4 linked regions of the Homo sapiens genome follow. The protein of the gene in region 2 interacts with the protein of the main gene of each other region in a biochemical or structural test. Each region holds a gene or a part of one and is shown on either strand. Other genes may lie near its edges.

Region 1 (4,043 bases), on a different chromosome or scaffold from region 2:
CTGCTGTGCCCTGACGTACAGTTCCCCACCTGCCATGCATAGCAGTTACTAGCGCACCCTTCCAACACCCTGGAAGCTGCTGGGGGGTCTCTTCTCCTCTCCATGCAGATGCTGTCCCTCCCTCCTCTGGGTGTCCTTTACCCTCAAACTTGCTTCTGTTACTGCACTTCCCAGGCCCCCGTTACACTTCAACAGTCTGGTATTCTATCTCATGGGTCTGTATTTTCCAAAGTGTGGCCCACGGAACCCTGCGTCAGAATCTCCGGAGCTTTCAAGGAGGAAAGTGGGAGTTGCAAAATGCAAATTTCTCGATCCCCTTCAAGAGTGGATAGAGCAGAATCTCTAGGGGTGGGACCTGCAAAGCCTCATTTTTCTCAAGCTCCACAAAGACTGAAGTCTGAGAACCGCAGGCCTCACCCTGTGCCGAGGTGTGCTTAGCTCCCCTGCAGTCTGAGAACTTAGCTTTCCTGCAAGTCCAGAAGCTTCCCGCAGCAATGCCCCTGCCGCTGCCCCAGGCATTTGCTGTAACACATACCTGCTGGCCAGACCTGGAGAAGGGCAGCTCTTTGAAGCACCCATGTAGCCAATGGGCAGCTTGGCCAGTGACGAATAAGCACTAGTTTTCTTTTGTTGTTGTTTTGTTTTTTTGTGGTTTTTTTTTTGAGACGGAGTCTTATTCTGATGCCCAGGCTGGAGTGCAATGGCGTGATCTCGGCTCACTGCAACCTCCGCTGCATGGGATCAAGCGAGTCTCCTGCCTCAGCCTCCCGAGTAGCTGATATTACAGGTGTGCAGCACCACGCCTGGCTAATTTTTGTATTTTTAGTAGAGACTTATTTTAGTAGAGACTGGATTTTTGTATTTTCAGTAAAGATTTCTTTAGTAGAGGTTTTACCATGTTGGCCAGGCTGGTCTTGAACTCCTGACCTCAGGTGATCCACCCGCCTCGGCCTCCCAAAGTGCTGGGATTATAGGCATGAGCCACCGCACCCAGCCAGCACCAGTTTTTAGAATTTGACTTCCATGTCTTTTTTAAAAATAATGTTTTTTATAGAGACGGGGTCTGACTATGTTGCTCAGGCTGGTCTTGAACTTCTGGCCTCAAGCGATTCTCCCACCTCAACCTCCCAAAGTGCCGGGATTATAGACGTGAGCCACCGTGCCCTGCGGATTTCCATGTCTTGGATGTTCCTGAAGTAGTACGCTCTGTGGCAATAGGACAAACGAAGCCTCTTATTTTCCACATAAGGAAACAACAGATGGGGCCTCGGCCTCCAGGGCCTCCAGGCTCAGCCTCTCTGCCTCCTCAGACCTCCCATCCTCCTGCCTCCCTGACTTCAGAGACCCAGGGTGACCAGTGGGCTTGGTGGTGGTGGCTCCAAATACTTTTCATGCCTCTTATTTACAGAGTGGTCGTGGGCAAGTCACCTGACCTCCTTAAGCCTATGTCTTCATCTGAAACATAGGGAGACAGCCAGGCATGGTGGCTCATGCCTGTAATGCCATTGTCCCTGAAGTCAAGGAGAGCACACAGGATTAGAAAGCCCATCAGACAAACACAGCTGCGCAAACTGCACAGGGAAGAGAATTCGGACTGCTCCATCTTCAGGCTGCGAACCCTGTGTGAACCCTGCATTGCAGAAAAGGGTCCTCCCGGCTCTAGAAACACAAGCCAGTGAATGGCCACACACGCAAAGGGAGGCTGCTCCCAGCGAAGTAGGCTCCCGAGTACCTCTCTCAGATCTGGGCCCTGCAGGGGGTGGTCTTCTCTGGACTTGCTTAGTCGCTTAAAGAGAAAAATCCACGAAAGCCTTATTATCATCAGGCTTAAACAGGGCCTTAATGAGTCCTTCACGTGGCAGGCACCCACAGCTGGCCCAGCAGGGGCCCCATTCTGAAACAAGGTCGAGGGGCCCAAGGGGGAGGGTCTCTCCACCTGCAGGCAGCCACCGAAGAGCAGGTAAGACCCAAAGGGAAATGCATCACGTTGTTTCAGGTTGTTACAAAGTGTGAGTCCCCTGTAATCCCAGCACTTTGGGAGGCCGAGGTGGGCGGATCACTTGAGGTCAGGAGTTCGAGACTAGGCTGGCCAAAATGGTGAAACCCTGTCTTTACTAAAAATACAAAAATTAGCAGGGCGTGGTGGCCTGTGCCTGTAGTCCCAGCTACTCAGGAGGCTGAGGCAGGAAAACTGCTTGAATTTGGGAAGCAGAGGTTGCAGTATGCCAAGATTGTGCCACTGCACTTCAGCCTGGGTGACACAGTGAGACTCCGTCTCAAAAAAACAACAACAAAAAACAGAGTGTGAGTCAACTGGCCCGATGTTAAGTGAAAAAAAAACAGCAGGATCCAAACGCTACTTAAAATCCTGTCAAAATTCTGGGAATTATCCCTGGATCACATGTATATGAGAAAAACACCAGGCCAGAAAACACGAAGCGAAAAGACAAAAACAATGGGCCTTAGTGAATGGCCATCCTTGGGGGTGCCACTGCACGGCATGTGTGCGAGAAATGCCACCGCAAAGACACGCAGCAGGTGGTGGGCAGGCTCTGGGCAGCTCCCTCAGGCCAGGGAGAAGCAGAGTCACCAAGATCCAAGATCCAGGCCAGGCTTTGGTCACAGCCCGCAGCAAGTGCCATAGGCTGCCCGTGCCACCAAGGAGCAAGTGCAGGTCAGACACCCCTACATGGTGCAGAGTCTAAACCCAGGGGCCTGGAATACTTCACTGGGGCAATGGAAGAGAGAAGTGCTCGGGCAGGCAGGCAGGCTGTCCCTAATCCCCAAAGAGGACGACTGTTTTTTTTTTTTTTTTTTTGAGAAGGAATCTCACTTTTGTCATCCAGGCTGGAGTGCAATGGTGCGATCTCAGCTCACTGCAACCTCTGCCTCCTGGGTTCAAGTGATTCTCCTTCCTCACCCTCCTGAGAAGCTGGGATTACAGGCGCCCGCCACCACGCCCAGCTAATTATTTTGTATTTTTATTAGAGACGGGGTTTTGCCATGTTGGCCAAGCTGGTCTCGAACTCCTGACCTCAGGTGATCCGCCCACCTTGGCCTCCCAAAGTGCTGGGATTACAGGCATGAGCCACCACGCCCAGCCGCGACTGTTCTTAATAGCACTCCTGGCTGCAAAATAACTCAATGGATGCCTTACTGGGTACTCAAAATTGACTGGGTTTTACTCACAGGAGCCCAGGGCAACGGGCCCAGCCTGTGACTGCTCAGCTAAGACCCTCAGGTTTTGCAGCAGACTCCTAACGTCCCTAGCAAGTTAAGCTGCCCAGGGGTTGAGCCCTGAGTGACGTCACCCATTGTGACTTATCCAGGCTGCTGCTCTGTCTCCAGAGACATTTGTCTCCAGAGTCTCATTTGGGGACTGAAAACATGCCATGCTGGGGCTGCCTCTATGGAACCCTGGACTTGGGGCCAGAGAGGCTCCGAGAGCTGCCACTTAGTAGTCATGTGACTGCATTTTCCTCGGGTTTAAAATGAGCTGGTTAGACTCAGTCAAGCAAACTCTCAGAGGCTCGATTTCTTTCTTTTTTTTCCTTTTTCTGTATTTTTTTTTATCATGCTGCAGAATCAGCCTCAATTTCTTCATTGATAAAAAGTGAGGATTCAGGCTGGGAGTGGTGGCTCATGCCTGTAATCCCAGCACTTTGGGAGGCCGAGGCAGGTGGATCACCTGAGGTCAGGCGTTCGAGACCAGCCTGGCCAACATGGTGAAACCCTGTCTCTACTAAAAATACAAAAAATTAGCCGGGCATAGTGGCAGGTGCCTGTAATCCCAGCTACTAGGGAGGCTGAGGTAGGAGAATCGCTTGAACCTGGGAGGTGGAGGATGCAGTGAGCTGAGATCACACCACTGCACTCCGGCCTGGATAACAAAAGCGAAACTCTGTCTCAAAAGAAAAAAAAAAAAAAAGGTAGGGATTCAACATTTGCCTCAGAAATCAAAAGGACTGAGAAGGCAATGAAGACTCCAGTGCTTAGTAAACTGCAAGCTGCTGACCAGCTGCCAGGGGTTATTCATTCTCAGT
Region 2 (3,202 bases):
CCAGGTTCAATTATTCTCCCACTTCAGCCTCCCGAGTAGCTGGGATTACAGGCACCTGCCATCATGGCTGGCTAATTTTTGTATTTTCATAGAGATGGGGTTTCACCATGTTGGCTAGTGTGGTCTTGAACTCCTGACCTCAGGTGATCTGCCCGCCTTGGCCTCCCAGAGTGTTGGGATTACAGGCGTGAGCCACTGTGCCCGGCCAAAGATTTTGAACTACAAAAGAGAAACCTGACATGCCAGTGTCACAATTCTGTATTTCCATGAATAGCATGGAGGACATGAAATAACATTATGTTAGTCTATTCTTGCATTGCTATAAAGACCTGAGACTGGGTAATTTATAAGGAAGAGAGATTTGATTGGCCTACAGTTCTGCAGGCTGTACAGGAAGCATGGTGCTGGCATCTGCTTCTGGTGAGGCCTTAGGAAGCTTACAATTATGGTGGAAGGTGACAGAGAGCCAGCATATGACTTGTTGGGAGTGGGAGCAAGAGAGTGCCAAGGGAGAGGTCCCAGACTCTCTTAAGTAACCAGATTTCATGTGAACTGAGTGGGAGCTCACTTACACCAAGAGGATGATGCTAAACCATTCATGAGAGACCCTCCCCGATGATCCAGTCACCTTCCACCAGGCTTCACCTCCCACACTGGGAACCACATTTTAACATGAGATTTGGAGGGGACAGACGTTCAAACCGTATCAAACATGAAACTGCATTTCGCATCCTACCATAAAGCCTTGTTTTGGGGTGAGGAAGTGGCTGTAAGTGAAGAATGACTGCCTCGTTTCTGGTTTGGACAACTGCATTGGAATGTCTGTGGGACATGGAATTGGTCATACAGGTGTAGAACCTAAGACAGGTGGCCTCGGCTGGAGAAATAAATCAGGAGGTGGTCGTGGAAGCCATGGGATTAGATGAGTTTACTCGTGTTGAATACAGCCTGAAAAAGGAGCATAAAACAAAACCGAGGGGCACCCATGAGGAATGGGCTGAAGAGGGAAGATACTGAGGAGGATGGACACCAGGAGAGAAACAAGAAACAAATAATGACATGATTGTTTTGTGAAAAGGGGAGTGGCCAACACTGTCAAACACAAGAGAATTGGAAATAACTAATGAGCTACTGTGGGAAGAAAGCCACAAATGAAATCGTTTTCCAAGTTACTTTCTCTCTCTATGCCTTAGATTCTTGGTAAAAAGAGCACCTGCCTCATGGGGTGGTTGTGTGGGCAAAATCACCTGACTGATTTAATGAATGCAAACCACTTAGAACAGTGCCTGGCATACAGCACGCCCTCAGTAAAGGCTCGCTCTTACTCTTATTGCAGTTGACTGGGCAGGTGATGTCATTAGGTTAAAGGTGTTCTGTTATATTTAGGAAGGACAGTAGAAAAAAGGCCTGAAAATAAGCCTGCTGATACGAAGATTAAAATCTGCCTATAAAAACGGGATAGTAGGGATTTTCTATTTATTTTATGATTTGAAATCATTCAGGACTTTCTTTTGATGCTCATAATTCTTTAACCATTTCAGAACTGATTGATGCATTTATAATGCTACAACAGAATCTTATTGGCTGGCTGTATTCGTGTATAGGGTGACCATAACAAAGTACCACAGACTGTGTGGTTTAAACAGCAGGAATTTATCGTCACAGTCCTGGAGCTGGAAGTCTCAGATGAACGTGTGGGGAGGATTGGTTTCTTCTGAGGCCTCCCTTTTTGGCTTGTAGGTGGCCATCTTGTCCCTGTGCCTTCATATGGTCTTTCTTCTGTGCATGTCTGTGTCCCAATTTCTTCTTATGAAGACACTAGTCATGTTGGATTTGGTTTCACCCGTATGACCTCATTTTCCTTAATCACCTCTAAAGGCCCTGTCTTCCAATACAGTCAGAGTTGAGGTATTGGGGCTAGGACTTCAACATATGAATTTTTGGGGAACACAATTCAGCTTGTAAAAGTCACTTATGAGAAGAGTTTAATGTTAGCCTCTGAGTGAGTCAGAATTTAATGTTAATTATGAGTCTAAATTTAATGTAAATTCTGAGTGAGTCAGAATTAGTGGGTAAAAATTTGAGACCTCACTTTTTAATGGGCACACAAGGAAGATGGTGCATTAGTAGGTATCTCCTCAGGTCAGGCTGGATGTCATTTTAACTCCTAACAATTTATAGCAGCAGCCAGGCAAGCAAAAGTCAATCTGGAAATACACTGCCTGCCTAAACAGAAACACTTAGGTCAATACTATAGCTTTCAAAAGGGAAGGTAACACCGTGTGCCCTGGGTGTGGTTAATCTGTAAGAAATTTTAAAACCACAAGCTTTTTCCTCTACAGTATACCCTTCTACCAACATAATTTGATGTATACTTGGGGATGCCAATTTTTTCTTAAAACATTAACTAAAAGAAAGCCTAAGTAAGGAAACAACTTTGTTGGCTTTTGTGCCCTCCAAACCTGAATGTATTGCTTCTGAACTGCTCAGAATGTGGTTTCTGTTGTAATGAAGGGGTACTGGCTTACACATTCACTGCACACATTAAGCACTGGGAAGGAAACAGTAGGCAAAGAGGTGGGTTTTTCCTCCTTGTCTTGTAGGCATGTCGGGGAAACCAGCACGATGTGCCAGTCATTCCTTTGGATGTAGTAGATAATCAGACAGAGAAGTTGGACACCAACATAACTGAGGTGGATGCAGCCTCCGTTTACACGCTGCCTGCTGGAGCTGACTTCCTCATGTGTTACTCTGTTGCAGAAGGTGTGTGGTGTTTAAAACAAACATATAATTGCCTCTCTTGGCTAAGGTCCTGTAAGTTTCACCTTTGATTGGTTTGGGTCAGATCTTTCGGTTGGGACATGGTGATTCCATCCTGAAGCTCACAGACTTAGAATTTCTTTGACCACATGGCACAGAGTGATAAATGAAAGTGTAAAGTACCTTACAGAAAAATAATTCCTGAGAGTTATGTTGAGTAAAGCAACAGTCTAATTAATTATATTAGTATTAGCAGCCTACCATCAGTTACTGAGGGTGGTAGTGCCATTGTGGTAATTGTCATGGAAAGCTTTAATTTTTTTTTTTTTTGAGACAAGGTCTCAACTCTGTCACTGAGGCTGAAGTGCAATGGCATGATCATGGCTCACTGCAGCCTCAATTTCTCAGGCTCAAGCAATCCTCCCACCTCAGCCCCCCTGTA
Region 3 (3,944 bases), on a different chromosome or scaffold from region 2:
CCAGCCCCTGACCCAATGGCCTCTCCCTGCCCCCAGAGGAGGTCCGAGAACTGCTGGCCACCCTGGAGGGCCTAGACCTAGACGGGGAGGACTGGCTGCCTCGGGAGCTGGAGGAGGAAGGGCCTCAGGAGCAGCCAGAGGAGGAGGTGACCCCAGGGCATGAGGAGGAGGAGCCTGTGGCCCCCAGCACTGTGGCACCCAGGTGGCTGGAGGAGGAGGCCGCTCTGCAGCTGGCCCTCCACCGGTCACTGGAGCCTCAAGGTCAGGTGGCTGAGCAGGAGGAGGCTGCTGCCCTGCGGCAAGCCCTAACCCTCTCCCTGCTGGAGCAGCCCCCGTTGGAGGCAGAAGAGCCCCCAGATGGGGGGACTGATGGCAAGGCCCAGCTGGTGGTGCACTCGGCCTTTGAGCAGGATGTGGAGGAGCTGGACCGGGCGCTCAGGGCTGCCTTGGAGGTCCACGTCCAGGAGGAGACGGTGGGGCCCTGGCGCCGCACACTGCCTGCAGAGCTGCGTGCTCGCCTGGAGCGGTGCCATGGTGTGAGTGTTGCCCTGCGTGGTGACTGCACCATCCTCCGTGGCTTCGGGGCCCACCCTGCCCGTGCTGCCCGCCACTTGGTGGCACTTCTGGCTGGCCCCTGGGATCAGAGTTTGGCCTTTCCCTTGGCAGCTTCAGGCCCTACCTGTGAGTCTACCTCCTGGACTGAGGGACGGTGGGGTGGGCTGGTTAGCAGGGGCTAGTGCCCCAGGCATGGCTCTGACCCCCCGCTTTTCCCCATGCATCAGTGGCGGGGCAGACGCTGAAGGGGCCCTGGAACAACCTGGAGCGTCTGGCAGAGAACACCGGGGAGTTCCAGGAGGTGGTGCGGGCCTTCTACGACACCCTGGACGCTGCCCGCAGCAGCATCCGCGTCGTTCGTGTGAGTCCATGCCCTGTCTCTCTGGCCTCATGGCGTCCTGGGCTCTTGCACCATTAGCGCCTTGCCAAGTCTGTGGCCTGTCCCTCTCGCCTACATCAAGGTCAGCTGACCAGGAGCTGACAGGCTCCCAGCCCTGTTCTCTGCCCAGAGGGCGTTCCCAAAGTGGGTAGGGAAACAGGAGGGAACAGAGTGGGGGCCTTGGGATCTGATAGGCCTGAGTGAGGGTCCCCACTCTGCCACTCGTGGCTGGGTCAGCAGGGACTATGGGACCAGCTCCAGGCCTCAGTTTCCTTATTTGGAGCATGGGGCGGTGATGCCATCTTGTGGTCATTTTGAGGATTACTCGCTCCACAGATGCGTCCCTTGTGCTGTTCTGGGCGCTCTTCTGCCTCCACAGAAAGGCCCGGGCTCGCTGCGGTCACTGTGCTGATGACACTGCGCGGGGCACTCTCTTTTTTGAGACGGCATCTCGCTGTGTCTCCTGGGCTGGAGTGCAGTGGCACGATCTCGGCTCACGGCAAGCTCCGCCTCCCGGGTTCACGCCATTCTCCTGCCTCAGCCTCCCAAGTAGCTGGGACTACAGGCGCCTGCCACCACGCCCGGCTAATTTTTTAAAAAATATTTTTAGTGGAGACGGGGTTTCACCATGTTAGCCAGGATGGTCTCGATCTACTGACCTCGTGATCCGCCCGCCTCGGCCTCCCAAAGTGCTGGGATTACAGGCGTGAGCCACCGCGCCCGGCCTTGCACGGGGCACTCTCAACTCTTGATGCCCAAAGTTGTGCGTGGGGCCAGCAGCATCACCCTCCACCAGGAGCTGGTCAGAAATGCAAAAAGAACCTCTGGCTGTCCCCAGACCTCACCACCATCATCACCACCATCACACCATCACCATGACCCTCACCACCATCATCACCACCATCATCACCATCACCCCATCACCATCACCACCACCATCACACCATCACCATGACCCTCACCACTCACTGTCATCACCACCACCATCACCATCACCATCATCACCACCACCTTCACCACTCACTGTCGTCACCACCATCATCACCACCACCTTCACCACTCACTGTCGTCACCACCATCATCACCACCACCTTCACCACTCACTGTCGTCACCACCATCATCACCACCACCTTCACCACTCACTGTCGTCACCACCATCATCACCATCACCTTCACCACTCACTGTCGTCACCACCATCATCACCACCACCTTCACCACTCACTGTCGTCACCACCATCATCACCACCACCTTCACCACTCACTGTCGTCACCACCATCATCACCATCACCTTCACCACTCACTGTCGTCACCACCATCATCACCACCACCTTCACCACTCACTGTCGTCACCACCATCATCACCATCACCTTCACCACTCACTGTCGTCACCACCATCACCACCACCTTCACCACTCACTGTCGTCACCACCATCATCACCACCACCTTCACCACTCACTGTCGTCACCACCATCATCACCACCACCTTCACCACTCACTGTCGTCACCACCATCATCACCATCACCTTCACCACTCACTGTCGTCACCACCATCATCACCATCACCTTCACCACTCACTGTCGTCACCACCATCACCACCACCACTACCACCACCACCGTGGCCACCATCATCACCACCATTAGCATCACCACTGTCACCGTCAGCTTCACCAACACACCGTCACCGCTCACCGCCACCAGGATCACCACCACCCAGACGCACTGACCTCATATCCTGGTGGTTTTGTTAATTATACGTACTTGGTTCTTCCGGTGAGCACCTTGATGACTTTAAATGGTATGCTTGAATTTAGTGAGCACCTTGATGACTTTAAATGGTATGCTTGAATTTTTTTTTTTCACTTGACAGCTTTAGAGATTGTTTCTTGCCTTCCCGCATGGAAGATGAGGAGAATGGGCCTCGCTTCTCTCTCTTTTGCCTCCTCCCTCATCTTCCATCTCAATTTGGTCAGTTACATTATTTTTATTATGTCGTAAAGGTTTCTGTAACTATCACAAAGCCTCCATGCGTGGGCCATAGGTTGGTAGACATACTATAATAATGAAAAAACATTTACCACTGAGCCATAGAAAGAGAAGTGAAATCCTAGTTATTAAAATTCTGTTCTGTAAAAAAGATGTTCTAGGATTCAAGGCTAATGGCTTTTCTTTTTTTGACTTTCTTCATTTTTTCCAGGCCATTCTTGACCACCGGGTTACTCAGTACCCCGCTTGTCACCTTTTGGCACAGACTCTTTTGTTTAGTGGGAGTATCTCCTTGAGTGGGTGCTAAACATATTTGACTTTTAAATTTACGTATATGTGAACATATATGTTTAAACATATACATTTATATATTAATATATACATTTATATATATAATTTTTTTGAGACAGTGTCTCTCTCTGTTGCCCAGGCTAGAGTGCAGTGGCATGATCTCGGCTCACTGCAACCTCCACCTCTTGGGTTCAAGTGATTCTGCCTCAGCCTCCCAAGTAGCTGGGATTACAGGCACACACCACCACACCCAGCTACTTTTTGTATTTTTAGTAGAGATGGTTTTTTTTTTTTTTTTTTTTTTTTTTTTTTTTGAGACGGAATCTCACTCAGTAGCCCAGGCTGGAGTGCAGTGGTGCAATCTCAGCTCACTGCAAGCTCTGCCTCCCGGGTTCACGCCATTCTCCTGCCTCAGCCTCCTGAGTAGCTGGGACTACAGGCGCCTGCCACCACGCCCAGCTTATTTTTGTATTTTTATTAGAGACGGGGTTTCACCATGTTAGCCAGGATGGTCTCAATCTCCTGACCTCATGATCTGCCCACCTCGGCCTCCCAAAGTGCTGGGATTACAGGCGTGAGCCACCGCGCCCGGCTGAGACGGGTTTTTTTTTTTTTTTTTTTTGAGACGGAGTCTCGCTCTGTCACTCAGGCTGGAGTGCAGTGGCACGATGTCGGCTCACTGCAAGCTCCGCCTCCTGCGTTCACGCCATTCTCCTGCCTCAGCCTCCTG
Region 4 (4,043 bases), on a different chromosome or scaffold from region 2:
ATGGCATCCAGACTTCTTGCTCATGAGCTCCTGGCTCTCCCCTCCACAGGGCAGCCAAGCCCAGTTGAAGGAGGTGTGGGAGGAGCTGGATGGACTGGACCCCAACAGGTTTAACCCCAAGACCTTCTTCATACTGCATGGTAAGGTGGGGAGGGAGTTCCAGAGCCAGGATGAACCCTAGATTCTGACCCTTCTAGGACCTGAATGCTAAGAGGGGTGTGTCTGTCCCAGGAGGGCTTAGTCAGGCCCAAGAGCCAAGCCTATGTCCCCTGGTTGACCAGACAGCCCTGCCTCTCCCGACTACAAGGCTAGGATCTGCATGGAAGGGTTGGGCCTCTTTTCTAGCAAACACCAGACCTCGGGGTTCTAAGGACAGCTGGTGTCCTCTGTAAGCAAACCAGGCTTGGCTAGGCCTGGGCCCTCTGCCCACAGCAGCCCAGGAGAAGCCCTGGTCCACTCTGGGAACCCTGTCGCTAGGAGTGGGTTGTTCCCTAAGAACCAGGCCTCCAGAAGCCTGGAAAACCCTTTCTCTTTTTCTTTTTCCTTTTTTTTTTTTTTTTTGAGATGGAGTCTTGCTCTGTTGCCCAGGCTGGAGTGCAGTGGCATGACCTCGGCTCACTGCAACCCCCTGCCCTCCGCCTCCCGGGTTCAAGTGATTCTCCTGCCTCAGCCTCCCGAGTAGCTGGGATTACAGGCATGCACCACCATGCCCGGCTAACTTTTGTATTTTTAGTAGAGATGGGGTTTCACCATGTTGGCCAGGCTGGTCTCGAACTCCCAACCTCGTGTGATCTGCCCCCTCAGCATCCCAAAGTGCTAGGATTACAGGCGTGAGTCACTGCGCCCGGCCTCGAAAGCCCTTTCTCTATGGTGGATCAAAGGCACACTCCCCTCAGTCTGTCTCTTCCTGTCTGGAAATGTGGCCTGGGGTTGCCAAGCCCCCTCAGGTATGCCAAGCACCCTGTCCCAGAATCTGTAGCCGGTCAGATAAGCTTAGCAAGGCCTGACTCATTCATTCAGCAAACCTTTCCTAAGTTCCCTCTAAGGACCAAGCTTTGTCAAGACCCCGTGGATACAACTGTAAACAAAACAAAGTACCTCCCCCTCAGAGCCAGTGATCAGGCACACAGATCATACCATACTTTAGTAACTCCACGAGACTGTACAGTATGAGAGGTGCTAGCATTTTACGTAAGCTGCCAATTAAATTAACGTACCATTGAAAACAAGATGCGTCCTGGGCTGGGTGTAGTGGCTCATGTCTGTAATCCCAGCACTTTGGTAGGCCAAGGTGGAAGATGGCTTGAGCCCAGGAATTTAAGACCAGCCTGGACAACAAAGTGAGACCCTGTCTCTATTTAAAAAAAAAAAATAGACCAGGCGTGGTGGCTCACGCCTATAATCCCAGCATTTTGGGAGGTTGAGGTGGGAGGATCACCTGAGGTCAGGAGTTCAAGACCAGCCTGGCCAACATGGTGAAACCCCATCTCCACAAAAATACCAAAATTAGCTGGGCATGATCGTGAGTGCCTGTAATCCCAGCTACTCAGGAGGCTGAGGTGGGAGAATCACTTGAACCCGGGAGGCAGAGTTTGCAGTGAGCCAAGATCGTGCCATTGCACTGCAGCCTGGGTGACAGAGCAACACTCCATCTCAAAAAAACAAAGAAAAAAATAAAAATTAAAAGTTAAATAAATAAAGATACATCCCTATTTCAGGGGTGATAAAATAGAAGAACACAAAAGTGCATCTCAGAATCAACGAAGGTTCTAGGCCGGGTGTGGTGGCTCACGCCTGTAATCCCAACACTTTGGGAGGCCTAGGCGGGTGGGTCCCTTGAGGCCAGGAGTTGGAGACCAGCCTGGCCAACATGGCAAAACCCAGTCTCTACTAAAAATACAAAAATTAAAAAACAAAACAAAAATTAGCCAGGCATGGTAGTGCTCACCTATAGTCCCAGCTACTCAGGAGGCTGAGGTAGGAGAATCGCTTGAACCCGGGAGGCGGAAGGCGGGGGTTGCAATGAGCTGAGATCACACCACTGCACTCCAGCCTGGGCAACAGAGTGAGACTCTGTCTCAAAAAGCAATAGAAAGTAAAAAAGAATTAGAAGATTCTGTAATGGGGTCTCAGGTAGTGACGTGTACTACCTCGCAGCCTTGACCACCCAGGTTCAAGTGATCCTCCCCCTCAGCCTCCCAAGTATCTGGGACCACAGGCACGTACCACTATGCCTGGCTAATTTTTTTAATTTTTAGTAAAGGCAAGGTTTTACCATGTTGCCCAGGCTGGTCTCAAACTCCTTTGCTCAAGCGATCCACCTATCTTGGCCTCCCGAAGTGCTGGGGTTACAAGCATGAGCCATCCCACCGGGCACCACCCCCCGTGTTTTGTTTTGTTTTTTTTTTGAGACAGGATCTTGCTATGTTGCCCAGGCTGGAGTCAAACTCCAGGCCTCAAACAATCCTCCTGCCTCAGTCACCTGAGTAGCTGAGACTGCAGGTGTGTGCCACTGCGCCCAGCTTTAAAGATGTTTAATTGTACAGTTCAATAGTATTAAGTATATTTACACTGTCATGCAACCAATTCTGAGAGCTCTTCATCTCGCACAACCGAAACCGTATCCATTAAACCACTCGCCCTCCCCTTCTTTCCCCTGCTCTCTAGCAACCACCATTCTATTTTCTGTCTCTATGATTTTGACTATTTTAGGTACTTCATGCAAGTAGAATCTTTTGGTATTTGTCGTGTGTGTGTGTGTGTGTGTGTGTGTGTTTGGCTTATTTCACTTAGCATAATGGTGAGGAACTGAAGTTTTCATTCTACTGGATATTAATTTCTATTTCAATTGCCCCATGTGGCTAGTGGCTGCTGTACTGGAGTCCCAGCACAGCTCTAGAGAGGACATTTGGGCTGGATGCGGTGGCTCACGCCTGTAATCCCAGCACTTTGGGAGGCCGAGGTGGGTGGATCCCTTGAGTCCAGGAGTTCAAGGCCAGCCTGGGCAACATGGCACAAACCCATCTCTACAAATAAAATACAAAAATTAGCTGGGTGTGGTGGCGTGCATCTGTAGTCCCAGCTCCTTGGGAGGCAGAGGTGGGAGGATCACTTGAGTCCAGGAATTCAAGGCTGCAGTGAGCTATGATCATACCAGTGCCCTCCAGCCTGGGCAACAGAGTGAAACCCTGTCTCTAAAAAATAGAAAATAGGCTGGGCTCAGTGGCTCACGCCTGTAGTCCCAGCACTTTCGGAGGCCAAGGCAGGCAGATCAGGAGCTCAAGAGATCGAGACCATCCTGGCCAACATAGTGAAACCCCGTCTCTACTAAAAATACAAAAATTATCTGGGCATGGTGGCACGCACCTGCAGTCCCAGCTACTCAGGAGGCTGAGGCAGGAGAATCACTTAAACCCTGGAGGTGGAGGTTGCAGTGAGCTGAGATCATGCCACTGCACTCCAGCCTGGCAACAGAGCGAGACTCTGTCTCAAAAATAAATAAACAAATAAATAGGCCCGGCGCAGTGGCTTACCCCTATAATCCCAGCACTTTGCGAAGCCAAGGCGGCTGGATCCCTTGAGACCAGGAGTTCAAGACCAGCCTGGGCAACATGGCAAAACCCCATCTCTATGAAAACAAATACAAAAATTAGCTGGGTGTGGTGGCGTGCATCTGTAGTCCCAGCTACTTGGGAGGCTGAGGTGGGAGGATCACTTGAGCCGAGGAGTTCAAGGCTTCAGTGAGCTACGATCACACCATTGCACTCCAGCCTGGGTGACAGAGTGAGACCCTGTCTCTAAAAAATAAAAAAATAAAAACCTTATTTAATCTTTTTAATCAGGCAGTCCCTACAGACCAGAATAGGTTCAGAGCAACTCCCTATACCTTTTTTTATTTTTCATTTTTTTTATTTTTAGAGATGGGGCTTCCCTTTGTCACCCAGGCTGGAGTGCAGTGGCGTGATCATGGCTCACTGCAACCCAGACCTCCTGGGCTCAAGTGATTCTTCCACCTCAACCCTTAGAGTAGCTGGGATCATAGG

What was found.
Region 1: of the proteins of CASP6 (region 2) and MAPT, one has a biochemical effect on the other in vitro, tested with the Homo sapiens proteins (2 studies listed by BioGRID).
Region 3: of the proteins of CASP6 (region 2) and PARP10, one has a biochemical effect on the other in vitro, tested with the Homo sapiens proteins (one study listed by IntAct).
Region 4: of the proteins of CASP6 (region 2) and NUCB1, one has a biochemical effect on the other in vitro, tested with the Homo sapiens proteins (one study listed by IntAct).

What each region holds. Positions count from the first base shown.
Region 1 is NC_000017.11:45,991,667-45,995,709, reverse strand, and holds part of MAPT (microtubule-associated protein tau), read right to left. Parts: intron 1,787-4,043; coding exon of another isoform or gene 1,733-1,786; intron 1-1,732. UniProt on the Homo sapiens protein: Promotes microtubule assembly and stability, and might be involved in the establishment and maintenance of neuronal polarity.
Region 2 is NC_000004.12:109,690,411-109,693,612, reverse strand, and holds part of CASP6 (caspase-6 isoform alpha precursor), read left to right. Parts: intron 1-2,603; coding exon 2,604-2,763; intron 2,764-3,202.
Region 3 is NC_000008.11:143,979,904-143,983,847, reverse strand, and holds part of PARP10 (protein mono-ADP-ribosyltransferase PARP10), read left to right. Parts: intron 1-36; coding exon 37-681; intron 682-782; coding exon 783-916; intron 917-3,944. UniProt on the Homo sapiens protein: ADP-ribosyltransferase that mediates mono-ADP-ribosylation of glutamate and aspartate residues on target proteins. In contrast to PARP1 and PARP2, it is not able to mediate poly-ADP-ribosylation.
Region 4 is NC_000019.10:48,913,425-48,917,467, forward strand, and holds part of NUCB1 (nucleobindin-1 precursor), read left to right. Parts: intron 1-49; coding exon 50-140; intron 141-4,043. UniProt on the Homo sapiens protein: Major calcium-binding protein of the Golgi which may have a role in calcium homeostasis. Acts as a non-receptor guanine nucleotide exchange factor which binds to and activates alpha subunits of guanine nucleotide-binding proteins (G proteins).